Linked DNA regions of Homo sapiens. The protein of the gene in region 1 purifies or fractionates together with the protein of each later gene. This does not show direct contact. Each region holds a gene or a part of one and is shown on either strand. Other genes may lie near its edges. The genes, in order: TAS2R7, INTS12, ATP2B4 and CCNYL1.

What was found.
Region 2: the proteins of TAS2R7 (region 1) and INTS12 purify together in Homo sapiens (affinity purification with mass spectrometry; 3 studies listed by BioGRID and IntAct, with this or other methods). This does not show direct contact.
Region 3: the proteins of TAS2R7 (region 1) and ATP2B4 purify together in Homo sapiens (affinity purification with mass spectrometry; 3 studies listed by BioGRID and IntAct, with this or other methods). This does not show direct contact.
Region 4: the proteins of TAS2R7 (region 1) and CCNYL1 purify together in Homo sapiens (affinity purification with mass spectrometry; 3 studies listed by BioGRID and IntAct, with this or other methods). This does not show direct contact.

Annotation. Positions count from the first base shown.
Region 1 is NC_000012.12:10,800,818-10,807,790, forward strand, and holds TAS2R7 (taste receptor type 2 member 7), read right to left. Parts: upstream 1,811-6,973; 5' UTR 1,754-1,810; coding exon 797-1,753; 3' UTR 715-796; downstream 1-714. Other genes in the region: TAS2R8 (taste receptor type 2 member 8), read right to left, coding at 5,234-6,163.
Region 2 is NC_000004.12:105,698,344-105,706,173, forward strand, and holds part of INTS12 (integrator complex subunit 12), read right to left. Parts: intron 7,632-7,830; exon of another isoform or gene 7,536-7,631; intron 7,048-7,535; exon of another isoform or gene 6,971-7,047; intron 5,467-6,970; 5' UTR 5,305-5,466; intron 4,681-5,304; exon of another isoform or gene 4,543-4,680; intron 1,929-4,542; exon of another isoform or gene 1,672-1,928; 5' UTR 1,663-1,671; coding exon 1,507-1,662; intron 1-1,506. UniProt on the Homo sapiens protein: Component of the integrator complex, a multiprotein complex that terminates RNA polymerase II (Pol II) transcription in the promoter-proximal region of genes.
Region 3 is NC_000001.11:203,720,458-203,728,287, reverse strand, and holds part of ATP2B4 (plasma membrane calcium-transporting ATPase 4), read right to left. Parts: intron 7,740-7,830; coding exon 7,548-7,739; intron 7,092-7,547; coding exon 6,878-7,091; intron 5,811-6,877; coding exon 5,599-5,810; intron 4,408-5,598; coding exon 4,300-4,407; intron 894-4,299; coding exon 717-893; intron 1-716. UniProt on the Homo sapiens protein: Calcium/calmodulin-regulated and magnesium-dependent enzyme that catalyzes the hydrolysis of ATP coupled with the transport of calcium out of the cell. By regulating sperm cell calcium homeostasis, may play a role in sperm motility.
Region 4 is NC_000002.12:207,735,469-207,743,298, reverse strand, and holds part of CCNYL1 (cyclin-Y-like protein 1), read right to left. Parts: intron 5,889-7,830; coding exon 5,853-5,888; intron 2,645-5,852; coding exon 2,593-2,644; intron 1,077-2,592; coding exon 957-1,076; intron 1-956. UniProt on the Homo sapiens protein: Key regulator of Wnt signaling implicated in various biological processes including male fertility, embryonic neurogenesis and cortex development. Activates the cyclin-dependent kinase CDK16, and promotes sperm maturation.

The DNA.
Region 1 (6,973 bases):
TGATTGAATGTCTTGTCACAGCATCTTGATAATCATTGCCTGGTGCAGTCCGTGGACATACGTCTTTTGTGGAGAAATTTTCTTCAATAAATAATTAATAGTTCAATTTAGGCTTCTTATTTTATAGACATTTTCTACATAATTTTTCTCACTTTTACTTATAGATTGTCCTTCATTCATTGATCTGCAATTCTCAAATAATCTTTGAACTTACTGTGACAATATATTTAGCCATAATATATACCTTTTCTGTGATTATAAGATTATTCATAGAATTCCACAGCATTTATTAAGAACTGTCACTTTATTGAGTCTTTCCCAAAAGTAGAGCTTTGTTGGATGATCCAAGAGGAACCATCTAACGCGGACTATGAGAAGGAACTAGTTGCTTTTCATAAAGATGCAAATAACAGCAAGATGCTGTTACAGTTGTTTTGAATTAGTCACACAACTTTGCATCTGGAAACACGGTTTAGAACTATGAAAATGCCCTCTACTCTTGATAGTTGATATTAGGATATTAATTTCTATTTGCTCTGAAACATGTTTTAAAAAACAGCAACTCTAAAGAAAGGAAGAGTTACAGAAGAGAGAAACAGGGATACACAGACAGAGTCAGAAACAGAGACAGAGATAAAGAGATCCAGCCAGCTGTACATAAGATTCCCTACATTACAATTACAGATACACTAATTAAGTTTTAGGAGTAATTAATCACATAAAACATTAATGCAAGAACTGAAGTTAATTTAGAAACATCTTATCTTTGTTTGTCCTAGAAAAGCATAGTTTCTCTTCAGATTTGTTTATGTTGTTGGAATTTTCTTCCTTTTAGAATAGACATTACTTTCCAAATCACCTTTAGAGATGCATGTCTTAATTTATTGTTCCCCAGTATTAGGATAAATGAATGACTTGAGGGGTAGATTAGAGCTATGGACTCACCAAAAATCACAGCTAATTCCGTCTCTGGCATAAAGTAGCTGGAGGTGGCAATGAGAAAGGACAAATAGTAGGCAATAAAGAGGAGAAGGAAGGAAATGACAGCTTTCAGGGCTCTCACATGGGCTTCTGTGCTGGGGTCTCTGCACCCTGTGGCACTGAGCTGCATTCGCCTGATATGTCTCCGCAGGGAGAGGATCAAGAGGAAAAAGGACATTAGGCACACACAAAAGGGGAGCAGCGTTGCCAGGTTGAGAAATAACTTGGTAGAAGCATGTTGAGTTTTATTTACTCTGCAACTCCAAGTTAAGTTTGTTTTCCTCTTTGCCTTCACACAAAACCTGAAATCAGCGTTCAAATTCTCAGTGGCTGGAAGGCTAATAAACACAGAGAGAACCACGCACCCCAGTAGAATCCAGGAAATCACCCTGTCAATTCTCCACTTCATCCAGAGGAAAAGTGGGTGAAAGAAATTACCTATCTTGAAGAAATAGTAAATGCTGAGGCAGGTTGCAAACCAGATACTTAAATGATTGGTTAGTGTCCAGAAGAAGTCAATGATTCTCATTTCTTTACCAGTGGCATAGACATCTGGATATAGCACCAATATAAAACAATCTAATAGTATTACGCACAATAGACAAATTCTGGATATGGCCAGACTTGTGAGGATTAAATCAATGGAGGCAATTTTCCTCTTCTTGACCCAGTCCATGCAGTTTACCAATCCAATGAATGCATTCCCTAAGATCCCCACTGAAAACTCTCCAACTGCTAAGAACAATAAAGTAGTCTGCACTTTATCTGCCATGTTTAAATATGCAATTAGTTTCTAGTTGACCTGATGGAGTTTGACATCCACACCTGCTTCTTAGATTTTGATGTAGTTTTCTTTACCTCTTTGTTGTAGTCTGTTTTGTGATGGAGACTGGAATGATAAATGAAGACTGGAGCTATCTTCATTAAATCCTAATTAGTCTTGACAAACAATGTGTTTGGCGATCCTTGGCCTGGCCACTGTATGCCCATTTACCTACTCAGCAGGTTGTAATTTTCCACATACGGTTAATTTAGGCTGAGCTACTGTTTACTAAGATGCAAATTGGGCCAATTCCCTTTCATGGTCCTGCATTGTCTTTCTGAGGCTAAGGTGTACGCATTTTGGATTCATTAATTTGTGATGTATGCTAGTAACCTCAATAGGGTTGCTAGATTTAGCGACTAAAAATTCAGGACACTCAGTTAAACTTGAATTACAGGTAAAAAAATCAATAATTTTTTAGTGTATGTCCCTGATTACTTAAGATCAGTGCTTTCAGGAAGTACTGAAGTTCAAATTAGATTGAGTGTTCCATTCTGGCAACCTGAACATCAAGAATTTGGTAGCAAGTATAAAACTGGTAAAATTGGAAAGTTCTTGAAGAATTTTTATTTTGCTGAATGTTAATATTGATAATTAGTAAAGAATCCAAAGTTTGGTTCCATAGTGAGAGTTATATATTTTCAGGAACTTTAAAAAGTTAACACTAAATGTAGGTTATTTGATTCCAAAGAAACTTTAGGTCATTATTTTGGCTGTTCAGATGAACAATTACATGGCATAGTGTCTCTTAATACAACACATTGTCTTACTGACTAAATGACTTTTAATGGTTATTTAGCAATGTTATATATAATAAGGTAGAGGACCTGTAATAAAAAAAGACTATTGATTACCTTAAATTTTTCATTTTCACTTAAAATGTTCTCAAGGAAACTTTGAGAGGTATTAGATATGTCCATTACCTTGTTTGTGGTGAAGATATCATGGGTGTTTGAAATTTTATACATTAAATATATGCGGTTCTTTTTATACCAATTATACTTTCATAAAGATTTCAAAAATTTAAAAAATGTTCTCAAGGGTAGTTGTATGCATGAGAGAGGAGATAGTAAAATTCTGTATTTCATTCTCTCCACTGTCCTCCATACAAATTGCATGAGTATCTAGATCCTCAACCCTTCTAGCAGGAGACTGAAGATTAAACTTTCCACATCTCTAGAGATGAATTTTTAGTTTGAAATAGCTTCTCTAATTTAGAGTTACTGAGAAGCGCTTTACTACATGGGGTTCCATAGAATAGTTCTTGGGTATTCACACCTTCCTGGGAATGCATGTCTTCTCTTATCCTTCCTTAAAGGACAAACCATCATTCCGGAGATGTAGCCTTAACTTTTGGACAATCTGTATGATTATGTAGCCATGTTCACAGGCAACTGGAACATCACCTATGATAGGACGATCTTGGATATGATCCCTGACCTAGACTTATCATTTCTTTTGTTTTTTTTTTGAGATGGAATTTCGTTCTTGTTGCTCAGGCTGGAGTGCTATTTTGGCTCACCGCAACCTCCATCTCCCAGGTTCAAGTGATTCTCCTGCCTGAGCCTGCCAAGTAGCTGGGATTACAGGCAGGTGCAACCATGCCTGGCTAATTTTGTATTTTTAGTAGATTCCGGGTTTCTCCATGTTGGTCAGGCTGGTCTTGAACTCCCGACCTCAGGCGATCCGTGTGCCTTGGCCTCCCAAAGTTCTGGGATTACAGGTGTGAGCCACTGTGCCTGGCCTAGACTCATCATTTTTACCCTACAGTTTATCCTGGTAAATGAAGTGCTCATGGGAACTATGATGATGTATTTTCTCAAATAATTTTTAGACTTGTTTTTGTTTAGTTTTGGAAATAAATGTAGATTTTATGAATACCAATGTTGTATAGCGTGAAGTTATGTGAATATATAGTTAAAAAAAAAGTTCTATGAGAGAGCATTTTGTCAAAAGCTTACTACTTTGAACCCCAGTCACTGTGGTCACTAGAGATGCTTGAAACATTAGAGAGGCAGGAAACAAAATATGGAAGAAAAAAACTTAACCCTAATGGGGTAAAACCTTCCCAAAAGTACTAATTCAATAAAACGTTTATTTCACTTAAACCTTAGGAAAAATATAAAGTTCATCCTAGTATAAAATCTACCTGTATTTTGTAGAATACATTAATATATTTCATCAAGAGAACATGAATTCTTGTGTCTTGTAAAACAAAGAGTAACATATACAGCTAGCATATTAGAAATATAGTTCATAAAATTTATATACTTGGGGCTATAAATATTAGTACTTTACAGAGTGAGTTTTACATAATAATAAGACAAACAACTGATAATTTTCCGGTAATTAGTATTTTAGTTATAATAAAAGGAAATTAGTAGATTGAAATACATCAGAATTAAACAGAAAGTAATGGGAGTAAAAGCAATAATGTACAGCCATATTAGTACATACACAACCTGAGATATGCCAGACCAAACGTTTCAATAATATTATAGTGAGGATGGATTTCATGTTCACAGAAAAATTAAAAATTTTAGTGACTTATTTTCCTTTTTTTTTTAATAAAAATTTATCTGTATTTTTTGTAAACATTCGTTTCTTCTTCCAGGGACAGTATGTGCTTATTCCATGGTATACGCTATTTTCTTCCCAATTTATTTCTTTTGTTAAGTCCTGAGTGAAAACCTTTGCAGGGTCTGGTTAGAGAAAAGAACCTGATTGAGCAGTCTGACTAATATTTGTTATCCCCATTCTTTTATCCAGATTGTGAAGAGGGCTTAGGAACACCCCTTGGTGGGTGGCACTTGAATGGGTTCGATTCCCACCTAGGTGCTGCATGAAAAGCAAGTTGTTTGAGAGGAAATTTAATTCCAAGGAAAATCAATAGAAATCATCAGAATAAGGTCAACCAGAAAATATTACCTAGGAGACCATGGAAATCATCATTCGGGAAAACCAAAGACAGACCAGAGAACATCTGAGTTCCTAATCAATAAGCCAAATGGGGGTGACTCAGCAGAGCCATGAAAGGAGCACAATTAAGGAGCGGCAATAAAAATGTATGACAAAGAAAAATGAGAAACCAGTTACTGTAGCTCAGGTCCACTTTACCATGAGCCAAAGTAAAATCTAAAAAGACTTTAACTAGGCAATACAGGCCTAACACTTGCGTTGAGGAGACAAGAAGAGAAGCATGAGCTCTGAAATTCTTCGAGGAAAGGGAGTGTAAAGATGAGCATTTCTGAGTTGTAAAGGGATAGAAAAGATGTATTCAGTAGTTTGCTACTAGGTCCTAATAATATTTAAAGATATGCATCCAAAATAAATGAGATAACTGGGGAAAAATGAGAATAGACTATTAAGAAAACTATATTTTTTGTTAGAGAAGATTTGGTTTTAAATTCCATTTATACAGCTAAGATTTCATATCATGCAGGCAATTTTTCTACATGTCAGCATTCTGACAAATGTCTGCCTCAGTTTATTATTTAAAACAATTAAAATAAGTGAGTGACCCAAGGGGTAGAGAATTGCTGCAATCTCTCCAAACTCCACAGCTAACTTGTATTTTGTCATAAGATAGCTAAAGGTCATCAAAATAGAAGAAATATAGTATAGGAAAAAAAAGAAGATAAATGAAGTCATAGTTTTAATGGCTCTCACATGAACTTCTGTGCTGGGGTCTCTACTGCCGGTAGCATAGAGTTTTATTTGCTTGGTATGTCTCCATAAAGATCTTACTAAAAGGAAAAATGATATCAGTGACACAATAAATGGGACAATTGCAAACAGGTTAAAGAGAGTCAAGGGTTCAAAGTATGGTATTTTACTCACATGGAACATTTCAGTAATGTTTCTTTTATGTTTGGCAATTGCATGAAACCTATAATCACAACTCAGTACTATTGCTGCTATAAGGCTGACCAACAAGGAAATGGCAAAGCATCCCAGCAGGATCCAGTGCACCACCATATCAATTTTCCACTTCAGCCAGAGAAAAAGTGGATGAGAGGAACTGGCTATCTTCAGAAAATAGAAGACATTAAGGCAGGTGGTAATCCACATATTTAAGTAGTTGGCAAATGTCCAGAAGGTAAAAATGACTATCTGTTGTTTATTTTTTGTATAAACATCTGGGTTCAGTACTATTACAATGCCATTTACAACCATTACACTGATCAAACAAATTCTGGCGATAACTAAATTGGTAAGGATGTAGTCAACTGTGGAAATCTTTTTCTTCTTAATCCAGTCAATCCAGTTGACTAGTGCAATGTATCCATTCCCCAATATTCCTAGTATGAATTCTCCAGTTATTAGGATTATAAAGATGTTATCTGCAGGACTGAACATGTTTGTAGAGAGAACAATCTGATTTCAAATATCACTGTAGATGAGCTAATTTACAGGTGACCTGTTAAAGCATGATAGATCAATTCTTCGAATCATGCAATAATGTTTTCATCTGCTGTTATTTCGACGTTGTTATTCTTCCGGAAGTGTTCAGCTCTCCTCTGAAATAGGATTGTCTCTACACTCCTGAAGATGAAACCAACTAATGAGCAGCTTGACTAGTTATTTATAGCCTGGAAAAATTATAATTATTATCCTTTAGTGAGTGATACCTGAAATGTTTGGCTGAAATTGCTCCCATGCAAATTCAAAGAGATTTTATATCATGAATTTGCAACAGGCTTCTTGCTGTAGCTCTATATTTGGATCTTCAAATTGAGTTTTGAATAGGGAGTCATAAAAAAAGAGATAAATGTTTAATAAAAACCCAACTGTGTAAATAAAACTTCATTTTCATCATGTAAGTTATAAATAAGCCACAAATCAGTTCTCCCAGATGCAAAGAAATTTTCACTTTGGAAGTAATTAGTACAATTAGATTGTAGATATTTAACATTTAGTCAGAGGATAATAATTCTTGTCTTCATTTAAACGGCTAATTAGGGAAGGATATAATACAAATCTAATTAGAAATGACTTTTTTTTAGGCAGGCACATGATAATATTTACTAAGAATTTGCTTTCTTTTCAATTGTTCCTCAGAAGTGAAATATGCCAGGTAAAGATTTGTTATCTTTAGTTTTTTTTTAATGTGACAAATACCCTTGAAGACAATTCATTTCCTGAATCACTGTCTCTTGTATAATAAGC
Region 2 (7,830 bases), on another chromosome or scaffold:
TCTTACACAAATCTAGTGATGAAAATATTCAGCTGAAGGCTAAAATTAAATGGACCTGGGCTTTAAAAACCTATAACAAAGTAGTTTCTGAAAACTGATCAAGAGAAATGAACTCTAGCTAGAAACCTAAGGGCAGCGTGCTTTTTAATCACAACAAATTTTTCATGTTCTTTAAGAGATAAACTTCCATTTTAGAACCCCATTAAAACAATTTTTTTTCTTTAGTAATAATAGGTTTCCCTATCTGGACAATACCAACACCCACAGTGGAATGAATTTGGTAGTATGTTTTGTAGAGCCATATTGATTTGGTCGATCTGAACTCACTGAACCTACTGCAATGAGAATGGATAGAAGAAATGAAGTCACAATGGTTCTGCTATTCAAAATACAATAAAAAGGCTTCGGAGTACTAGACCTAGTATTGAAAGAAGGCTGGGGACAAAATGCCAGTGTTTACTTGGGCTCTGAGCCTGGGACTAGATCCTCTCTTGAGCTTCAGATTCTGGTTAGACTTGAGCTAGTCATGTTCTATTTTCTCCTTCTCAGTTTGGGATCTAAGTCCACAGACCTGAGTGATTTGGAGTTTGAGGGTCAGAGCTTAGAAGGATTTGATAGAATGTCTTAGTAGGTATTAGGGAATATAATAAGAGTTGTCATTCAGTGACAGCCTATTATGTACCAGGCAGGTACTACACTAGGTAACTCATTTACTGGATCTCCTTCAATTTTTACAACTCTGCAAAGTAGTTCTTATTATCCCCATTTTACCAATAAACAGACTAAGTGAAATGAAGTTTCTATGTACCTCAGTTTCCTTATGTAAAATGAAGAAAACAGTTATCTATCTTAAAGGATCATTATCATAATTAAAATTAATTATTCACATAAACTACTCAGAAAAGTGCCTGGGACATCAAGATACGTTGTCTATTATCATCACACAATTATAAGATTTAAGTGGGATTTAAAACAGGTGTGTTTGGTATCAAAACATATATTCTTTTCACATAAAGCTGCCATTGGCTGCTTTGTTATTATCAAGACAGGAGCTACACAGTTCTCAGAGTTCATCCATACCTCCTTTTCTCTTAAATTATCCTACCCATATTCAATTTATTTTGTTGAAAGATCTGTCCTTTTACTTGATTTTTTTTAATCCTTAAAATATTAGGCAATAATTAGAAGTAAGTTGTGGTTACATTCAGCAGCTTAAAAAAAATTCTGATCACAAAGAATCGGAAATTAAAGTAAGTCGTAAACAAGTGAATTCATATACACATAAAGTAGTAGAACAGAATATCCTGCACCCCCAGCTGATTTTTCTATGTGGTGTAACAGTTCTCTGAAAACTTGAAGGGAAAAAAGAAAATAAAGAATATAATTTCTTCATGCTACAAGGAAAGATTATTTCGGCAGAGATTGTTTTGAGATGGTCTATATGTTATCAATGTAGTACTACAGGCCTTACAAAACTCTCTCCAAGCTTTTTATTCATTCAAGTACCTTTTGAGATGGACGGTAACTGGAATCAATGCCCCGAGCCAAAGATTCATCAAGCAGTGCTTTTAGCTTTTCAGCAGAATCTTTACTCTTTGAATGCAAGAAACCTAGTGCTTTCAAAAAAATGGGATCAAGTTCCAAGTTCACAGTAGCAGCCATTGCAAACGCCTGAAGGAAAAAAAGAGAAAGTAATCTAGAAGACAATGCACAATTATCTATGTTAAAGTTTTACTTTTCTGTTTTTTAATTTGTAATAGATAATACTGTACACATGATATAAAATTTAAAATCACCAAAAAGTTATTACAAATAAAAGTAAATTTCCTTCTTATTCCTGACAGGCATTATCTAGTTCCTTCCCCCTGAAACAACTAGCAGTATCAGTTTTCTGTGTATCCATATCGATGGTAACGTTTTAAATCCAGGTAGGCCTCTCCCTGCCACAGAACTCCTTCCTAACTGTGTTTTAAAAGATACACTTCGCAGTTTCAGTACATAGAACTTGATGGGTTTACGTCAAGTTTACTCTGTATCAAAATTTCTTCTCTCAAACCTTATTTCCATAACACAAGGGAAGACTTAGTGTGCAGGTGTTTGTGTGTGTAAGGGCTATCGTAAGAGGGCAATGGTGAAAAGGTATATTAAGTGATTAGCTATCATGGTCACTGCTGCCACTTTTACCTCAACTCTTTTTTTTTTTTTTTCTAAACTCACCTCTTCAGTTCTCTGCCCCAACCCTAAATGTCTCAGAAAACATATTAATGATAACCTTATTTGATCACATTTAGATTGTGGTATCTCATGCATTAACCTATTTTTAAAAGTAAGGTCTCTGAGGGATAATATCATATCTACTTAAAACACACACACACACACACACACACACACACACACACACAGAGCCTATGATGCTTTGTGTCCTAAAGAGCTTAAAAAATAGCCAAGATGGATAAAGATATACATCAAAGGCTTATGAAATTCCACAATACTAAAAAGTTTTGTTTTTAGTTAATACCAATGCTATCATGTGGTTCTGCTTCTGGTTGTCACTTTTTCAAAGACCTCTCCAGGCAAGAAATTATCAAAATAAAAATGTATTCTTTGTGTTCAATCCTTTGATCAATATACTATGGCTTGAAATCTTCTATCCTTGAGGTTAATATTGTATTAATGCAGCACACTTGCATTGCTATAGTTAGGGAACTGTCAGCAATTCCACAGTTATCTCCCATTTTCAGGGGTTTATAACACCATTAAAACTTGCTGTAGGTTGAATCCTAGCATATGAAAGCACATCTGAAAATGGATTTTGTTGTCCCCTCCCCTCCAGCTTCACTCCTCATCCTTCTCCACATCTGACAAGAAACACACATACACATCCCTAGGCTTTTTTTTTTTTTTTTTTAAGTTCCCAGGAAGGTATTAGTTATCTACCTGATAACTACAAAATTACTGTCGAATTCTGTACTGTACTAAAATATCATCTGAATCACCCATGGAAAGGAATCCAAAGGCCAGTACTATAATGAAAAAGTAACCTTATCTCAAACTGTTGTATTTCTAAGAATTTAACAAAATTGAAAAGCAGCCTCTGTCACTTCTTAAAATTATATTATTATATACATCACCTCTACATAATGATAGGTACAGAAAAATTATTTTAAAATTTACTCATGGGGCTGGTCACCATGTACGTTCTGAGGAAAAAATAGCTCCTTAATAAAATTTCCAAGATTAAAAGGGTAAACCTGCCATTCCCCCAGCATATACAAGGGTAACAGCCTAATCTCTTTTTTTTCTTTAAATTCCACTCCTGTGACAGTTTACTAATCTTTCTACTGATTTTATTTCATATAGGTAAAGGAAATAGCAGTTTACTTATCCAGATTGTTATAAAACAATTTATTTTATTGGGTGCTGACCAAAGGGTTGACACCTAAAAGAACCCTTGTAATATATTAGAAAAACCATTTCTTGAAATTTCTATGCTGAAAAATGAAAGCCAAGTATTTATTGCTATGTATTTCTACAATCACAGGTAAGAGGTTTACATTACAGATTAGGTGACAAGAGTCAGCACCTAGATTACAAGACTGCGGAAGTCATCAACACCAACATTCCAGTTGGAACCTTGGAGTCAGTTCTTTTTATGCAATCTTGCCATTATAAAACTTAACAGGCTTTGTACCCCTCCCCTAAATTACTAACATGGCCCTTTGACCCAGTGGTCCCCATGGTGGAATACAGAGAAAAAAATATTAACTTTTTAATTTATTTCTATTTCTTTTTTTTTTTTTTTTTTTTTTTGAGACAGAGTCTCGCTCTGTCGCCCAGGCTGGAGTGCAGTGGCATGATCTCGGCTCATGGCAAGCTCCGCCTCACGGGTTCATGCCATTCTCCTGCCTCAGCCTCCCGAGTAGCTGGGACTACAGGCGCCCGCCACCACACCCGGCTAATTTTTTGTATTTTTTAGTACAGACGGGGTTTCATCATGTTAGCCAGGATGGTCTCGATCTCCTGACCTTGTGATCCACCCGCCTCGGCCTCCCAAAGTGCTGGGATTACAGGCGTGAGCCACCGCGCCCAGCCAATTTATTTCTATTTCTATTTATTTTTTAAAAATCTATTCATATACAGAGTGATAATAGTGTGTTATATAATTGATCTTTAACCTCAAGGAGCTTTATCTTCAGCCAGTGAAATCTGAAACTTGCCACAACTATTGTCCTCTTTTATTACAATCAATTCTCCTTTCTGACTACAATCTTCCATTACTCTATCTCTTCCACTGCCTTAATCCAGGGACCTCTTCAAAGTGCCAAGTCAATCTTTCTTCTGTATTTATTCATTTCTCTATTCCCATTCTACTTGTTCTTTGTTACAGAAGCCTCCAATTTCTTGTCCCTTCTGCTTTCTCCTTATTGGCACCCTCTTGCCCTGACTTTTGTTTCCTCACCAAACAGAAAACAGTAGTTGAACCTAAAATAAAACACTTATGGTTATGTGGTTTATATTTTATATTTTAGTTTTCTATCTTACCTTTACTCCCCCTTTTCTGTTGCCTTCTCTAATCTCTGTTACTTTTCCTTCCTTACCGGCAAATATCCATATAGTGAAAGAAGTTTACTTTCTACAGCAGTCATAAAGAGGTCAGCAACTTGGTGTAACTGTGTTGATCTACACATACAAAAATATTTTCCTGGAGTTACACCAAATCATGTTACTTCTATACAATTCCTTTCCTGTATATTCATTCCTAAACCCATGGCCAAAACAGACTGCAAAAGAGCCATATCATTCTTACTATGGATTAGAGTTCTAGAAAACAAAGTCCTGTGTGTGTGTATGAAAGAAAAATGTATATATGAAAGATATTTAATATATTAAATGTAGGTTTCATTTAAAAAGTAGATGTTGCTTTCAAAAAGGAGAATGTGAGAAAATTAATATTTACCACTTTAAAGCTTTCGCTGACCTAGGGAAGTGGTAGTAGTAGTATTGATAGGAGTGAATTCTTAGGTGATGCTGGGAATTAGCTGTGTCAAATGCATATAGCACAAAAATCGCCATTACTGAACAATGATCTTTTTTCTGTATCTCTTATTATCCTTGATTTATTGCAGTATGCCGTTTACTTCCTATCCAGCTCACATTCTGTGGTCCACCCTTTCAATACCTCTTTCAGTACTCTAGGCACCCGAAAGCCCTGTAGTTTCCCTACTTTATAGACATCCACCCTGCTAGCCATTCTCTCTCTGCCTGCACCCAAACTCTAAGTGCAACTGGGAGGAATATACATACATTCTATCTTCAGAATCACCATTCTCAGCTTGGCGTTCAGTACAACTTGGCAATTCTCTCATCCTTCTCTGGTCAACTCACTTCCCCACTTTCTGCAAAGATCAGTTATACTTCCTCCATTTTCTTTTAAAATTGCTTCTGTGTTTCAGTAGATGGCCTCACCTACTTCACAAAGAGAGGCTGTCAGAGAGGAATTAAGTCGACTTCCTTCCAGCACATCTACAAACTTACCTGCACTCATCCTTTCCTCTTTCCCATCTGATAAAAAAGGAGAAGGTAGCTCTCTATGTAGTGTCACCTGGATCTGGATCCTATCTCTTCTTGTCCCCTCTTGAACCTTGGCCTATGGATTATTTCCCATATCTTCTTTTTTTTTTTTTCAGCCTTTCTACTGGCATCTTTTCATTGACATTAAATATATTCAAACATCTTCTATCTTTTCTCTTTTATAGCAAAACGTTCTCAGAAATCATATGCTTTTGTACTCTTTTTCTTCATTCCTTCTATTTACACAGCAATTCTTGCAATTCAGCCTTTGTCCCACTATTCCATGAAAATGCTCTCATGAGTCATTCGCCGCCTCAGTCAGGTAAACCTAATACATACGATTGTCCCTCCTACTTCTTTGTCAGTCATCTTTGTAGGTTCCTCCTATCCAATTAAAAATGAGTTCCTCAGTGCTAGGTTCTGGGTCTCTTCTTGACTTGTTCTACATCTTCTTCCAAAAATGTGTTCTCTGAGTCAGCAGCATAGGTATCACGTCAGAACTTAGAAATACAAACTCTTGGTCTCCATTCCTAGGCCTACTGAAGAAAAAACTCTGGGAGTAGGGTCTAGAAATCTGTGTTAAGCCTTCCAGGCAATTCTATCTACTCTAAAGTTTGGGAATTATTGCCCTAGACAATTTGATCTATATAGTCTTTTGCCAGTGATTACTAATACATCTCTGCAGTCCATGTGTCTCTCCCAAGATCCAACTGCCAGCTTGACATGGATATATCATTGGTGCCTCCTATGCAACGTGTCTCCAACAGAGCCACTCATACACTATTCCCTTTTCTCCTAACCAGTTCTTCCTCTAGTAATCCCTTTTTCAAATGATATTTACCCTATTGCCCAAGCCAGTAACCCAGAAGCAGCTTTAACTCTTCCCACTTCCTTAATTCCCACCCCCAATTCAATAACCAAACCTCTTAAACATACCTCAAATCTATCCACCCTTTTCAATCCTTACTACTACCACCCTAGACCAACCTAGCATCATCTATTATCTGGCCCACTGCAAAAGCTTAATCAGTCTCCCACAATCACTCTTGTCATCCCTTTAAACCTTTTCATATCACTCACTTGCTTAAAATCCTTTTATCACTTCTCACAATCCAAAGGTTCAAGAATAAGATTCTTAACAAGGTCTCCAATTCTCTACATCAGGGGTCCCTAACCTTCAGGCCATGCAGCAGGAGGTGAGCAGTAGGCAAGCGAGGGAAGCTTCATTTGTATTTACAGCCACTCCCATCACTTGCATTACTACCTGAGCTCTGCCTCCTGTCACATCACTGGTGGAATTAGATTCTCATAGGAATGCGAATCCTATGTGAACTGTGCATGTGTGTGATCTACGTTGTGTGCTCCTCATGAGAATCTAATGCCTGATGATCTGTCACAGTATACCCCATCATCCCCAGATGAAACCGTCTAGCTGCAGGAAAGCAAGCTCAAGGTTCCCACTGATTCTACATTATGGTGAGTTGTCCAATTATTTTATTATATATTACCATGTAGTAATAAGAGAAATAAAGTGCACAATAAATGTAATGCACTTGAATCATCCTGAAACCATGTCTTCAATGAAACTGGTCCCTGGTGCCAAAAAGGTTGTGGACCATTGCTCTACATGATTAATAATACATATAAAGCAGTTACAACAGTACCTGACACATAGTTGACACTCATTAAATGTTACCTAGTATCTTAGGCCATTCTCACTCTCTCTGTTATAGCTATCTGACTTATTTCAAGTCCTCCAATATACTCTTTCTTACCTTAGCACTTCAGTAGAAAGTGTGCCACCCCCACCTCCATCTTAAGTCACCTCTCAAGTTTCAGTTTTTCCTGCACATTCCCTCAACAAAACTAGAAGTTTCACTGTTACATAGCCCAAAAACATTCTGTACTTATTTGTAATATTAATCACACTGTTAATTATGTAAATAATCTTTCTTTCTCATTAGAATGTAAGTTCCATGAAGGCAGGCAGTGGATTGGTCTTGCCTACTGTTGTAACCCCTGTCTGGCAGAGTTCCTGGAAAACAGCAAATAACTGTAAATGTTGGCCAAGTAAATACTTGTTATCTACTTCCAATTTCATAAAACTTTCTCTTCCCTTGAGTTCTGTTATACTCAACTTTTCTGTTTTTCCTCTTCTATCTCTGACTACTCTTTCTTTGGCTTATCTTCTTTGTTGCTTTTGGTATTGTCCAAGTATTTGTCCTTGGCTATCTTCTTAGTTCTGCTAGCAGTTTCTTC
Region 3 (7,830 bases), on another chromosome or scaffold:
GTGGGGCTATAGACAGGGGACATAAGAGCAGCAGGGGTGGCTTCTATCCCATTTCAGAAATTGCAAGAAGGGAAGAGGCTTGAAGAAATTATTGCTTCCTCCTTGTCAGGAAGCAAGTCTGAATCCTGCAAAAGATGCTCAGACATCAAGAGACTATTGTCATTTTTACACATGAAACCATCAGATTCCCCACCATGGCCTTACACTTTGAATGGGGGAGATATAACAAGGTGAGTTTCTTTTACAAAGACCCTTCCAGATAGCATCTATTCCTATAATGGCAGTGTGAGGAAGCTATATTAAGTGAATGCTGGGTATGTTGGCATATTGATATTGTCTAACTCCTTCCTTCTGAAGGGTAGGGAAAAACTGAGCATTTCCCACCCTGGGGTCAGGTCTAGTGCTTGCAAGAGACCTTATGCTGAAGCTTGCCCATTTGATAGAGGGTGGCAGGCTGGGCTTTAGGGTCAACCCAGAGCTAAAGGACTATGCTAATAGTGTCCCATGGTCTAGGTCATTTGACTCCTCTCCTCTCAGAGGACCCCACACAGATCCTTTTGCGTGTCTGTCCTGAAGCTGAGGATCTAGGGCTGCCCATCAGTAGTGAGCCTTTGGAAGGGAAGAGATGCTGGCCGACAAGAACTGCTACCCTCCCAACACCTTCCAAGATGGGAAGCTGCTTCTCCCAAGGGAAGGACAGACCACTATCAGAGTACCTGAGTCTGGATACGGTTCAGGCCCCGGAACCAGAGGATCTGGCCTCGGCGCAGCTCCATCTCAGCATGGTCAATCTCATCCAGTCCCTCGGCATCCTTGGTGATCTCCTCTTTGGTGGTGCCATGCCCAGCCTCCTTCAGGAACTTCAGGGATCGGGTAGGTATTGCGGAGATGAACTGAAAACAAGCGCAGCGAAGAGGAAGACGTCAGAATCAGCGTGAGAAGAGCTGTCAGTCAACTTACATGAGCCAGGCCCTTGGGCAGGTTACTCTTTGCCCTACCACCCTTCCCACTGGAAGAGCAGTGGGCAGAAGCACCAATCCATCCAGGCAAGCATTCTCCAAGTGCCCACCAGCGGTCAGGCTTTTAGGAAGGTTTTCTGTATTTATGGACACACACAAAAGAGAGCTTCTATTCTAGTAATTGACCAGCCATCTGCCTGGTCATATACTTCATTTTCCTCTTTCTGTCTCATTTCTTCTGTTCCATTTTGCAATCTGTCTTTTAAGGTTAACAGAACTATACAGCATGGTACGCAGTAGGAAGAAACAGAGACCAGGACCTGGGGGAAAAGAGTTTGGGGAGAAGATGGTGATATTGCCTATGTATAGGCAAGGGGTTGAGAAGGGTATTGGAAATGAATGACCCCTTTCTTAGTTGCCACATGCAAAGTAGTTTCTGTGTTACAAACTCTTGTGAAAGGATACCAAAAGTTTTCTTGGGCTTGAGGTGAGGAAGTGGATGGGACAGTCCATAGAAGAGGGGTCACATGAGTATTATCAGAAGACAAGGAGCAGTACATAGGGTTTGAAATTTGAAATAAATTTCCCGGTGAGCTCAGCACCTGTCAGTCAGTTCTTTCCGGACAAGATAAGGAGTAGCCAGGGCTCATGTGGGGAAGAGGGACTGTATGGGCAATCTGATATGGAGTCAAGGGTTTTGAAATGGGAAGAATGCCAGAGCTCTGCCTCTGAATGTGGAAAAAGCTGTTGTGATACAGAAGGAAGGCTGCTGTCTGGCAGCAAGGCCACATGGCCACATGTGAGGCAAGAGCCAGAACAGAGTTTCAAACAACAGGTTTAACAACCAAGCTTTACCAAAGCATAAAACTGCTTTAGGAACCCATTGGTAAAAAAAAAAAAAAAGAAATCTTCACCAAACAGAACAGGGTGGAGGGAATTGGGTCAGACATTAATTAGGGAGGGCTGGGTGCAGCGGTTCATGCCTGTAATCCCAGCACTTCGGGAGGCCGAGGCAGGAGGATTGCTTGAGCCCAGGACTTTGAGATCAGCCTGGCAACATAGTGAGACCCCAATCTCTTTATTTTTTGTTTTTCGACATAGAGTCTCACTCTTGTCATCCAGGCTGGAGTGCAGTGCCGTGATCTCAGCTCATTGCACTCCGCCTCCCGGGTTCAAGCAATTCTGCTTCAGCCTCCCAAGTAGCTGGGATTACAGGCATGTGTCACCATGCCCGGCCAATTTTTTTTTTTTTTTTTTGTATTTTTAGTAGAGACAGGGTTTCACCATGTTGGCCAGGCTGGTCTCGAACTCCTGACCTCAGGTGATCTGCTCGACTCAGCCTCCCAAAGTGTTGGGATTATAGGTGTGAGCCACTGCGCCTGGCCTGAGACCCCCATCTCTTAAAAAAAAAAAAAAAAAAAAAAGAAAAGAAAAGAAAAGAAAAAGAAATTATTCAGGGAGGCATCTAGGTATGAAATAAATAACTAGCAGGTTTAGGGGAGAAGGCCTGCAGCTCCAGAAATGGCTCTTTGAGGCCAGTTAGGGCAAAGTGTCCATTACCTGGGTGGCTGGACACTAAGGGATTATCTGCAGAGACCTGGGGTCTGTAAAGAGAGGTATAGCCCAGGCCAGAGCTGAGGATGAGGGAGGTTTGTAAAGTGGTATTAAGGAAGAAGTGAAACTATTAGACTTAATGATACTATTATAATCGTAATAGTTTAAAATTTGATTATTTATAAGGAATAAGACATTATTCATTACTGTATAGTAACTGATTCACTAATTAACAATGACCTTGTTTTCCTAAGCTGAAGACACTGAGACACAGATTGGTTATGTAACTTGCCCAAGATGATTCAGCTTATAAAAAGGAGAGCTGAGGCTGGGCACGGTGGCTCAGGCCTGTAATCCTAGCACTTTCGGAGGCCATGGCGGGTGGATCACCTGAGATCAGGAGTTTGAGACCAGCCTAGCCAACATGGTGAAACCCTGTCTCTACTAAAAATACAAAAAATTAGCTGGGCGCGGTGGTGGGTGCCTGTAATCCCAGCTACTTGGGAGGCTGAGGCAGGAGAATTGCTTGAACCTGGAGGGTGGAGGTTGCAGTGAGCCAAGATTGCACCATTGCACTCCAGCCTGGGCAACAAGAGCTGGGCCAGGTGCGGTGGCTCACACCTGTAATCCCAGCACTTTGGGAGGCCAAGGCAGGCAGATCACGAGGTCAGGAGTTCCAGACCAGCCTAGCCAACAAGGTGAAACTCCGTCTCTAGTAAAAATACAAAAATTAGCCAGGTGCGGTGGTGGTTGCCTGTAATCCCAGCTACTTGGGAGGCTGAGGCAGGAGAAATTGCTTGAACCCAGGAGGCAGAGTTTGCAGTGAGCCGAGATCACACAACTGCACTCCAGCCTGGGTGACAGAGCAAGACTCTGTCTCAGAAAAAAAAAAAAAAAAAAAAAAAAACAGAGAGCTGGATTCAAACCCAGGCAGTCATTCCCAGAGTCCATGCTCTGAACCACAGGCCATACTGCTACTCTAGAGATCTTGTAAATCTGAATTTATCTCAGGTAAGAGTTAAGAATTCCACCCAGATAAAGCCATGGCAAGAAAGAGAAGAGGCTGGAAACCCTGAATTATGTCAGCTCGACAGCCCATAGCCAGGTTGCTGCCTCATGAGAATAAAGACATGTGTCTTGTAAACTCTTCTACTTCTAAGACCCTTATTATATATTTTTTTTTTGTAGCAAAATTCCATTGAAAAGTTTGGTTTCTGTCTCAGAGAAGCTAAGGGATTTTTCTTTTTTTTTTCTTTTTGACACTGAGTCTTGCTCTGTCGCCCAGGCTGGAGTGCAGTGGCGCAATCTCGGCTCACTGCAAGCTCCACCTCCCAGGTTCACGCCATTCTCCTGCCTCAGCCTCCCGAGTAGCTGGGACTACAGGCACCTGCCACCATGCCCAGCTAATTTTTTGTATTTTTAGTAGAGACGGGGTTTCACCATGTTAGCCAGGACGGTCTTGATTTCCTGACCTCGTGATCTGCCTGCCTCGGCCTCCCAAAGTGCTGGGATTACAGGTGTGAGCCACTGCGCCCAGCCAAGCTAAGGGATTTTTCTACCTCCAGGCTTAGTTAGAGAAGAATTCTGAAACCTCTGAAGTGATCATTCCACCTTGAGATCCTATGAGATGGCAAGAACTTGAAAACTTGAGTGGGGGTGGGGAGGGAAGAGGAGAAGATGAAGATGAGGAGCTGGGGGGTCTCCACCGTTGCTTGTTCCATCTCATGTAGAGGAGGGGAGTTCTGCAGGCTGTGAGAATGCACCAGGAGGGTGTGCCGGTACTCACCTGGCCCCACAGAAGTTCTCCAATCCCAATGAAGAGACACCACAGCCACTGAGACAGGCTGAGGCTTGTACAACTGAAGGGTTTACCCCCAAATTCCACGATGAAAATCTAGAACAGAGAAAGGGGCAGCCCACCATCAAGGAAATGACTAACAGGCAGCTGGCCCTCCAGCCAAGGCCCCCAAAGCCACATCATCCCACTCCTCAGGATCCTTGGGTACAAGTCCCGATTTGCTTGCAGGGGAAGGGAAAAGAAGAAATCTCAAAGGGGAGACAGACAAAAACAGCCTTTAAGAGCACTCTGATGGGGAGACAGACATAGTTACTGTGACTATGATTAACAGACAATCTGGAGGAGTTAGGGGAGCTGGTGGCTTCTTGTGACTAAAGCCAGTTAGTGACAAGGAGAAGGTACAGTGATGGAGTTAGGAACTGAGGATGAGGTGGGAGGATTGCCTGAACCTGGGAGACTGAGGCTGCACTCCCCCTGGGGGAGGGGGGAAAAGAGAGAGAGAGAGAGAGGCAGAGGGAGAGAGAGAGAGAGAGAGAGAGAGAGAGAGAGAGAGAGATATCTGTCTCAAACGAAAAAAAAAAAAACAAAAAGAAAAAATGGCAGGCGTAATAACACTTTGGGAGGCGGGAGGATTGCTTGAGGCCAGGAGTTTGAGACCAGCCTGAGCAACAGAGTGAGACCCCATCTGTATTTTTAAAATTAAAAAAAAAAAAAAAAAGGAATTGAGGATGGGGACAAATAAAGGGAGGTGCCCTGCTGAGGGATGGGACATGATCAGCTCATAGTCTCATATTGGAGGAGTCCAAGCTGGGCTGACTATGTAATATACATGTACAAATCCCATTACTTCTCTTTCTTTGAGTTGCACAACACTTTTTATCATAAGCCCTTCAGAACAAAGGGCAGGGACAGGGAGAGTCTATACTAGATGTGCATGCACATTTCATATAGGCTGACAGGAGCCATAGAAAGGGACTAGAAGAGAATACTTCTTTTGGTCATTCTGTGAAATTTCTGTGTATTTAGAAAGATCATGAAAGGATTTTAGAAGTATTATTTTATTTCCAGTCAACATGCTGCCCTGCACTGGAGCTCTTGACACAATGGGCTCCAATTCTAGAGCAATATGCAAAAGAAAGCAGATTGGGAATCCCAAAGTGTTCAACTTACAGCTCCAGTCCCCGTAATTCCTTCATTCCTTTTCCTAGGTATGTAGGGAACCCTGGCTCCCAGCTTCTGCCCTTTATCATTCCAGATCTCCTGCCCCAACTGCAGATAGAATCTCACCTGGCAGATGAATGTGCCCAAGACTACAGAGCAGAAGATAATGTTGCGGTAGATGCCTGAAAAGACGTTCTTCTCTCCATGGATCTTTCGGGAGTTGATTTCATTGAAGAGCTGCATCAGCACGAAGGTGTTAAAAACAATGGTATAGTGCTGGCTGGGTGGTGAATGTAGAGGTGCCTTCCTCCCACTATCAATATCAAAGAATTTCTCACCTAGTGGGGAGAGGAGAAGCACTGGAGGTTAAGTGTGGTCTGAACTAAGAGTAAGAATGTGTTGGTACAGATATACTGCTTGCTTATGGCTGGTGTCCATTCTAATTAATCAATATCTGAGCTGCACTAGTTATTTATTTTTTTGACACAGGGTCTCACTCTGTCACCCAGGCTGGAGCGCAGTGGCATGATCATGGCTCACTGCAGCCTGGACCTTCCTGCTCAAGTGATCCTTCCATCTCAGCCTCCCAAATAGCTGGGACTACAGGCGTGCACCACCATGCCTGGCTAATTTTTTGTTGTACTAGTTATTAAACATTTTAAATGTTAGTTCTGGTCTTGACTTATTTTACCTTCTCTCTCAGTTTGCTGCATTGATACTTGCTCTCATGTAGTGCAGCATGGTAGTAAGACTATGTGCGCTGGAGTCAGGCAATCATAGGTTTGAATTTTACTGCAACTATGTACTCATTATGGGACCTGAGGTTAATTTTTTGAATCTGTAAAAAAAGAAATAAGCCAGGCGTGGTGGCTCATGCCTGTAATCCCAGCACTCTGGGGGGCTGAGGTGGGCAGATCACAAGGTCAGGAGATCGAGCCCAGCCTGGCCAACATGATGAAACCCCATCTCTACTAAAAATACAAAAAGTAGCCGGGTGTGGTGGCGCATGCCTGTAATCCCAGCTATTTGGGAGGCTGACGCAGGAAAATCACTTGAACCTGGGAGGCAGACGTTGCAGTGACCCGAGTTAGCGCCACTGCACTCCAGCCTGGGTGACAGAGCGAGACTCTGTCTCCAAAAAGAAAAAAAAAAAAAAAAAAAGAAAGAAAGAAATAATAAAGCCTCCCTTGTGAAATTCTTGAGTACACACAGTACACACTGTACTCAAGAGTACTGTATGAGTACATATAGTAGCATAATGCACCGTGTAGCGGGAGCACAGCAAGCACTGGGAGGTGAAGCTGCGCTTATTCCTGACCTGTGCACTTGCTCTCACGCTACCTTCTTTCTCTGCCCCCACCTCCAACCAGGACCCCAGCTGCTACCCACCCCCAAAGTGGCTCACCCGCAAAGACAAGGATAAAGATGACAATGAGCTGATAGAATGCATGGCCCAAGATGTTCTTCATCATAGTGCGTGAGATCAGAGGCTTATTTCGGCCATAGGGGCGCCGCTTCAACAGAGATTCCGTAGGGGGCTCTGTGGCCAGGGCCAATGAAGCAAAAGTGTCCATGATCAGATTAACCCACAACATCTGCACAGCTTTCAATGGGGAATCCTGGCGGGGAGAAGAACCAGTCCTTTTAGCTTTTCTCTGAAACCAGCCCACCTTTGCCCTGTCGATGGCCCAGCTCCCACGACCCACCTAGACTTGGAATCTGGCCACTTCCTAGCTGAGTGACTGTGAGAAAGCTACTTAACTTCCTTGAGCCTCAAGTTCCTCACCCATAAAATGGGGATAATAATACCTACTTCACAAGGTCATTTTTGAAGAATACAGATAGTGCATATAAATGCTTATTACAGTGGCTGACACATAAGTGCTAAGCTAAGGCCTGTAAGTTACCATCTACATAAGCAGATGAAGACAGCAGACTTAGAAGAGCTAACTCCTGTCCCAATGTCATGGGGAAACGCTGTCTTTACTCTTCAGTAAACACACCGTAGTCTTCACTCCATGTTCCTTAGCCCCTGACTCATCCCTCCCGTCTCAGCCCACCCACACCCCCTTCACCTGAGTGATACAGGCTCCAGTGAAGGCTACAATCACGGCCACCACATTGACAGTGAGCTGGAACTGCAGGAACTTGGAGATGCTGTCATAGACATTTCGTCCCCACATCACTGCCTTCACAATGCTGGTGAAGTTGTCATCTGTTAGGATGATGTCTGAAGCCTCCTTTGCTACATCTGTGCCTGCGATGCCCTGAGGTAAGATGGGAGGGAAAACAGTGAGGGAGTGGATAAAGCCCAGGCTCCATTTCCTGACCTCCAGGAAGCTTCCGAAGTCAGTGTAA
Region 4 (7,830 bases), on another chromosome or scaffold:
TCCCCTCTTCCTGTACAGCTTCCTCTCCTGTATCACCTGTCTCTCTACATCTGGAAGCACCACTCCTGCTTCTCTACAGTATGTGCTAAGTGTTCCAAATGGCTTACAGCTCCATGAAAAGGCCTAAGTCTGATCCAGTACCCACTGAGGGGCTTCTATTCAAGTGCACAGAAGCCTTCTCTCCTAAATTCCAATTGGATGCTAAAGGAGTAGGTACTGACCTAAGTATTCTTTCCCTCCAGGCCATGCAGTTGACCTTCCTCTATAGGTTTGCTGTGGGGAGGAGTAAAACAATCCTAACCACTTGAATAGGATTTATTATTCAATGATAAAATCTTACCATAGGAATTCTGTATGGAGGACATAAAGTTAAGGACACAGCTATAGCTTAGTAAGCTAATCAGCAAAGCCTTTGTCCAAGTATTGCTGGTACCACATTGCTGGGCAACATCACGAGCAGGCACAAGAGGTAGGCAGAGATGATTAAAACCCATCATCCAAGGAACAAAGAATTTAGGGCAATAGTTCTCAATCACCACACATATCGGAAATACCTGGGGAATAGAGCCTGGGACTTGGCTTAGACCTACACTGGAATCAGTATCTGGCTCTGAACCACATGGTTTTGTTACCACTCCCCATCACCCCCAGCCCTGCCACCATGCCTTGTATGTGTACACACTGAATGTGTACATGTGCATTGATGGGTAGGGGGAGAAACCAGAAATCTCCCCGGCTGCCTTTTGTAGCAACTGTTCTGTGATGAGAAAAGCAATGGAAACATGTTCAACCATAATGATGATTAAACGCGAATGTACGTATTTATGTTCCTTTCATAGGTTTCTCTTAAAGTTCTGATGATAATTTCAGGAACCTATTTTTATTTGAAAAATAGGACCATACCCTGTGTACAAGACTAATTTCTAAAGACACTTTATAAATGAGAAATATCTTACCAAAGTTACTATTGCACATTCAGCTGTTAGCTGTGCAGCACTAAAAAGAGTACGAACAAATCTGTAAATAAATTTGTGCTCAGGATCATGCTTAAAGTATTCCTCTGGAACTTTTTCTCGCTGAAAGAAGAAAAGATGCAATGTTAGTATCCACTGAAGAAAAAAATTTTAAGCTTTTTTTTTTTTTTTTTGAGACTGAGTTTCACTCTTACTGCCCAGGCTGGAGTGCAATGGCATGATCTTGGCTCACTGCAACCTCTACCCCCCGGGTTTAAGTGATTCTCCTGCCTCAGCCTCCTGAGTAGCTAGGATTACAGGCACCCGCCACCACGCCCAGCTAGTTTTTGTATTTTTAGTAGAGACGGGGTTTCAACATGTTGGTCAGGCTGGTCTCAAACTCCTGACCTCAGGCAATCCACCTGCCTTGGCCTCCCAAAGTGCTGGGATTACACGCGTGAGACACCACGCCCGGCCTAAGTACTTTTTTTTTTTTTTTTGAGACCCAGTCTTGCTCTGTCGCCCAGGCTGGAATGCAGTGGCACAATCTCGGCTCACTGCAACCTCCACCTCCCAGGTTCAAGTGATTCTCCTGCCTCAGCCTCCTGAGTAGCTGGGATTACAGGCGTGCACCAACATGTCCGGCTAATTTTTTGTATTTTTAACAGAGGCAGGGTTTCACCATGCTGGCCAGGCTGGTCTCAAACTCCTGACCTCATGATCTGCCCACCTCGGCCTCCCAAAGAGCTGGGATTACAGGGGTGAGCCACCATGCCCAGCTGGCCTAAGTACTCCTAAGACCAGCAGTGTTGACGTTTGAGCCCATGTACCCCTTAAAATAATTCTGGTTGAGTGACATGACTTTTAGTTTTTAAAATATAAACAATTGGATCTTAAAATATCATAGTGATTCAATACTCATCACCATTTATCATTAAGGAAAAATACAGGCACAACTCAGAAAATTTTTATGTTCCTTTCCACTTTCTATCCACAGAATTCTATCAAAATGTAAACTACTTGTAGGCTCGAAAGTCTTACTAATCATATGTTAGGATTCTCTTAAATACACTTTGAAAAATTTTTTTTTTTTGAGATGGAGTCTCACTGTCGCCCAGGCTGGAGTGCAGTGGAGCGATCTTGGCTCACTGCAAGCTCCGCCTTCCACGTTCACGCCATTCTCCTGCCTCAGCCTCCCAAGTAGCTGGGACTACAGGCGCCTGCCACCGTGCCCGGCTAATTTTTTGTATTTTTAGTAGAGACGGGGTTTCACTGTGTTAGCCAGGATGGTCTTGATCTCCTGACCTCGTGATCCGCCTGCCTCGGCCTCCCAAAGTGCTGAGATTACAGGCATGAGCCACCGTGCCCGGCCTGAAAAAATATCTTTAGTTTCCTGTAACCATAAGGCTCAAAGGCTTCACTGTCCAAGACAATAGTCATTAGCCACGAGCGGCTATCATATACCTGAGGAAGTGAATTTTTAAATGTTTACACCATTTTAATTGATTTAAATTTAAATTGTTTTCTAATTATCTTCATAGAGATCATGTATATTTGTTAGGACTATTTATAAATATCAGCATGAAATAAACACAACTCTATGAGAGAAAAATACTACCTCAAAAAAAGTGACACTTACTGTAAGTGGATGTGATCTCTCATCAAAAATATCCAGGGATCTATTTGCATCTCTATAAAATAAGAATATGCATTGAAGAAGTTAATTCAGGAATTGTTAATATCTGAGTAAAATGTCTGCTGGGGGTGGCGGGAGATGCCTCCTGTTTGCTTTGGTGTTTGCTTCACCAAAGCAAAGAGTTGTACAAATTCTTCTCCGGGATGCCAGCCTTCAGAGGATTTCCTGACCTCTTTTTACTCAGCATATGAGGTTCTGTACTGTGAGGTCTTTTCTACAATGACGATTCAGAATTGCCTTTAAGTATTGGCCCTCCCTAACAGGCAATGGTAATAAAGTATATTTTCACTCTTCTAACCCCTCATTGGAACTCAAGAACGTTTTACACAGCAGTAGTGGTGGGCAATAAACTCTTTAGAACTTTAATGACTGTGAATGAAATTCAGATTTCCCAGGCTTTTCCTTTCTAGTTCTCCGTATTACATTCTTGACATGTATTTGTTTAAGTAGTTTGATGAGTTAAAAACCTTATTGTCTTTTTATTTTAAAAGAGACAAGGCTTTGATAATCTTTACAAGTTTATAAAACTAATACATTGTGCTCATTTAATAAAACCAGTGGTTCTCCAAGTGTGGTCTGTGGACTTCTGGAGACCCTCTAGATCCTTTTCCAAGAGGTCCTTGAGGTCAAAACTGTTCTTTTAAGAATACTTATTCAACCTGAGAAAGCTGATTGAAAATTTAGAAATAAAAATAATTTAAAAAAAAAGAATACTAAGGTATTGCTTGCTTTTTGACTGTATGACATTTGTAATGAGTGTATAACAGCAAAAGTGGGCAAACTGCTGGCTTCTCAGCATGAATCAAGGCAGTGCTACCAAATTATACTAGAAGTTATGCTACTCTTTACTGCCTCTTGCAGTTTAAGAAAAACACCTGCTTCACTCATGAATATCCTTGCTGAAGCAGTAAAAATTAATGGTATTATTAAATCTTGACCTTTCTTTTCACTATTCTGGAGTAAGCAGAAAGTTCACATAAAGTAATTCTGCATACCGAGGTAGAGTTGTGTTAAGGAAAAGCACTTGTGATTTAATTGTGAGCTAAACAAGCCATTTTTTTTTCACAGAATATCATTTTTACTTGAAAGTACAAATGTCATTCTCAAAAATGAAAGAAGTGGCCAGGTGTGGTGGCTCATGCCTATAATCCCAGCACCTTGGGAGGCTGAGGCGGGTGGATCACTTGAGGTCAGGAGTTCGAGACCAGCCTGGCCAACAGGGTGAAACCCCATCTCTACTAATACAAAAATTAGCCAGGCATGGTGACAGGCGCCCGCAGTCCCGGCTACTCAGGAGGCTGAGGCAGGAGAATCACTTGAACCCGGAAGGCAGAGGTTACAGTGAGCGAAGATGGCACCAGTGCCCTCCAGCCTGGGCAACAGAGTGAGACTCAGTCTCAAAAGATAAATAAATAAAAAGTTTTAAAAAAATGAAGCCTGTCACTTCAAGAAAATAACACTATTTGTTGCAATGATAAAATTCAAGCTTTCAAACTAAAAATCAGGATTTGGAGAAACTTGTACCTTATTATGTGAGTTTAACAGCTTCTCAATACTTAAAGATTTTTTAATACAATTGGTGGTGATACTAACAAAAGTGAGCTTTGCCACTGTCAAGAAATGTGAACCAGGCTGGGTATGGTGGCTCACGCCTGTAATCCTAGCACTTTGGGAGGCTGAGGTGTGCGGATTGCTTGAGCTCAGGAATTCAAGACCAGCCTGGGCAACATGGTGAAACACTGTCTCTACTAAAAATACAAAAAATTAGCTGGTATGGTGGTATGTATTTGTAATCTCAGCTACTTGGGAGGTTGAGACAGGAGAATCGCTTGAACCCGGGAGGCGGAGGTTGCAGTGAGCTGAGACTGCACCACTGCACTCCAGCCTGGGTGATGGAATGAGACTCTGTCTCAAAAAAAAGAAAAAAAAAAGAAAGAAGAGATGTGAACCAATATTTTCCATATAACCAATGCATAATATTAGAAAACCAAGTAAGGGGAAATGATACATATATTGTACAAGACAGATGGGTGAGTACTAATAAAAAATTCATTGATAACACAAAATTCCACTGTAACCATTTTAAGAAACTAGCACTTGTGGAGTGTTGGGTAGTATTAAAGAATACTGGCCGGGTATGGTGGCTCATGCCTGTAATCCCAGCACTTTGGGAGGCTGAGGCGGGTGGATCACCTGAGGTCGGGAGTTCAAGACCAGCCTGGTCAACATGGCAAAACTCCATCTCTACTAAAAATACAAAAATTAGCCAGGCGTGGTGGCATGCGCCTGTAACCCCACCTACTCGGGAGCCCGAGGCAGGAGAATCGCTTGAACTTGGGAAGTGGAGGTTGCAGTGAGCCGAGATCGTGCCACTGCACTCCAGCCTGGGCAACAGACAAGACTCCGTCTCAAAAAAAACCAAATAAAAATAAACTAAAAAATAAAGAATACCCACAACCATCTGAAAGCTTTAAAAATATACCTTTTACCAACTATATATTTGCGTGAGGCTAGGTCATCTTCTTATCACTTCTTCAAAACAAATTACAGCTCACTACCAGGGTGCACTATTAGCCACGTAATACACCTACACATGTACTCACTGTATCTAAAATAAAAGTTGAAATTAAAAAAAAAAACTAATTGCAAAGACAGAGATGAGAATCCAGCTGTTTTCTGTTAAGCTGGACACTAGAGAGTTGTATATATATAAATACATGACACATTTTACTCAACTTCGTTGTTGTAGAAGAGAGTTATTTTTCATGAAAAAATATTATTTATGTTAACAATATGATTCTCAGTCAGGGGTTATATTTTTGTTGTCACAACCTGGGACAGCTGTTAAATATCCTACAATACACAGGACAGTCCCCACAACAAAGACTTATGTAGCTCAAAATATCAACAGTGCCAACGTTGAGAAACTGAAACTAAATATAGGGTTTTTTTTTTTAAATTCTCAACTTCAATTTCTAATGCAATAAATATCAATATAACCAACATAAACAAATACTCTTTGGGATCCTCAGTAATTTAATAATTGAAACCATCTTGGGGACCAGAAAAACCACAAATGATTCAGTTCAATACTGTAATAGCAATCTATAGCTTATGATGTCTATAGTTATGACCTAATACTGAACTTGATATCATGCAAAGTAATTAGCTGGAATAACAAGACAGGTTTTAAAGGAGCTCACCTGTTCTTTATGTGGTAATATATTGCTAAGGTCACACTGTGAAGGGAAAAAAAAATTATTTTTAACAACTGATTTAAACATTTGTTAGGCCTGAAGACATTTTTTAAATGAGGGAAGGGAGGAACCCTCCTAGCGGCCCTGAAATCCTCTAGTTCAGAACAGTACCATATGGGTACTTTCCCCTTGTTTTAGTTCCTTTCAGCAAAAATACACGAACCAAAATGCTAAGTAAGGCCGGGCGCAGTGGCTCACGCCTGTAATCCCAGCACTTTGGGAGGCCGAGGCAGGTGGATCACGAGGTCAGGAGATCGAGACCATCCTGGCTAACACGGTGAAACCCCGTCTCTACTAAAAATACAAAAAATTAGCCGGGCGTGGTAGCAGGCGCCTGTATTCCCAGCTACTCAGGAGGCTGAGGCAAGAGAATGGCGTGAACCCGGGAGGCAGAGCTTGCAGTGAGCCGAGATCGTGCCACTGCACTCCAGCCTGGGCGACAGAGCGAGACTCCGTCTCAAAAAAAAAAAAAAACCCAGTAATATGCTGTTAAAATACATGTTTCTGTGGACTATTATAATATATAAATAATTACATATATCCCCATTTGCTCTTCTGCCCATAGAACCTTTCATTTTATACAAGTTCTACCTATTTGTATACATGCTTAAATTTAAACTATTTGGTTTTTTGGTTATTTTTATTTTTTGCTTTTTAAGCTGTTAGGCTCTGCATTTCAGTTGATTTAATTAACTATCACCTACCCACCCATCTTTCATTATTTCCCCTTAAAGTAAATAAAAGTGTTTTATACCAAATAAAATCATTTATGATCAATTTTGCATCATTAGTAGAAAATTTATTAGTAAATAAGTGCACACAAAACCAATGATAGGTGTAGCTATCCTGAAATAAGCAGTGCTAACAATGCAGCATAAAACTACAAAGTGTAATATTAATGGCAAGTATTTCCACATTGGTTTAAGTAAAATATTAGTGAACAGACACGACTTTTCAGATATATGTTACTGTATTCCTAAATTACCCACAGATGTTGTGTATCAGGAAACAAGGAGTTGTCTTAGGTAAGTTATATGCTTCCATTTGCCCTCAGTCTCTAAACTGAGGCTCAAAATAATTGAGGGAAGGCAAATCTGAATTTTAAGTCCATACAATGTTAGCACTTTTTTAAAAAGTCTGTAACATTAGCATCTAAGATGGATACTTCTATAGTGCTTCAAACATTTTCATGTCCAAATTGATTTTAACATTACAGAATTTGAAGTTATATGCTGAAAAGGACCACGGAACCTTACATGACATTTAATCCAACACCCAGTTTACAGATATGGGAACCAAGGCTTAAAACTGACTTGCCCAAGGTCCCACCAAATAGAAGCAGTTCATCCTCCTACATTCAATTAAGCAGTGGTTCTCAAACTTTCTGCACACTGCAATCACCTGAGGAGCTTTAAAAACTGCCTAACTTCCAACTTGAGACATTCTGATTTAATTGGCATCGGGTATGACTTGGGGCATGAGGAGTGTTTTTTGTTGTCTTTTTGTGTGTTTTGTTTTGTTTTTTTTTTGAGACAGAGTCTTGCTCTGTCGCCCAGGCTGGAGTAAAATGGCACAATCTCGGCTCACTGCAACCTCCGCTTCCCGGATTCAAGCTATTCTGTCTCAGCCTCCCAAGTAGCTGGGATTACAGGTGCACGCCACCACGCTTGGCTAATTTTTTTGTATTTTACTAGAAATGGGGTTTCACCGTGTTGCCCAGGCTGGTCTCAAACTCCTGAGCTCAGGCAATCTACCCGCCTTGGCCTCCCAAAGTGCTAGGATTACAGGTGTCAGTCACCACGCCCAGCCTGAGGGTTGTTTTTAAAGTTCCCCTGGTGATGATTCCAATGTGCTGCAAATTTTGGGAATGACTGAGTTAGGGTTAAGACCAGAATCATCTGGGATGTGCTTGTCTGTGTAATTA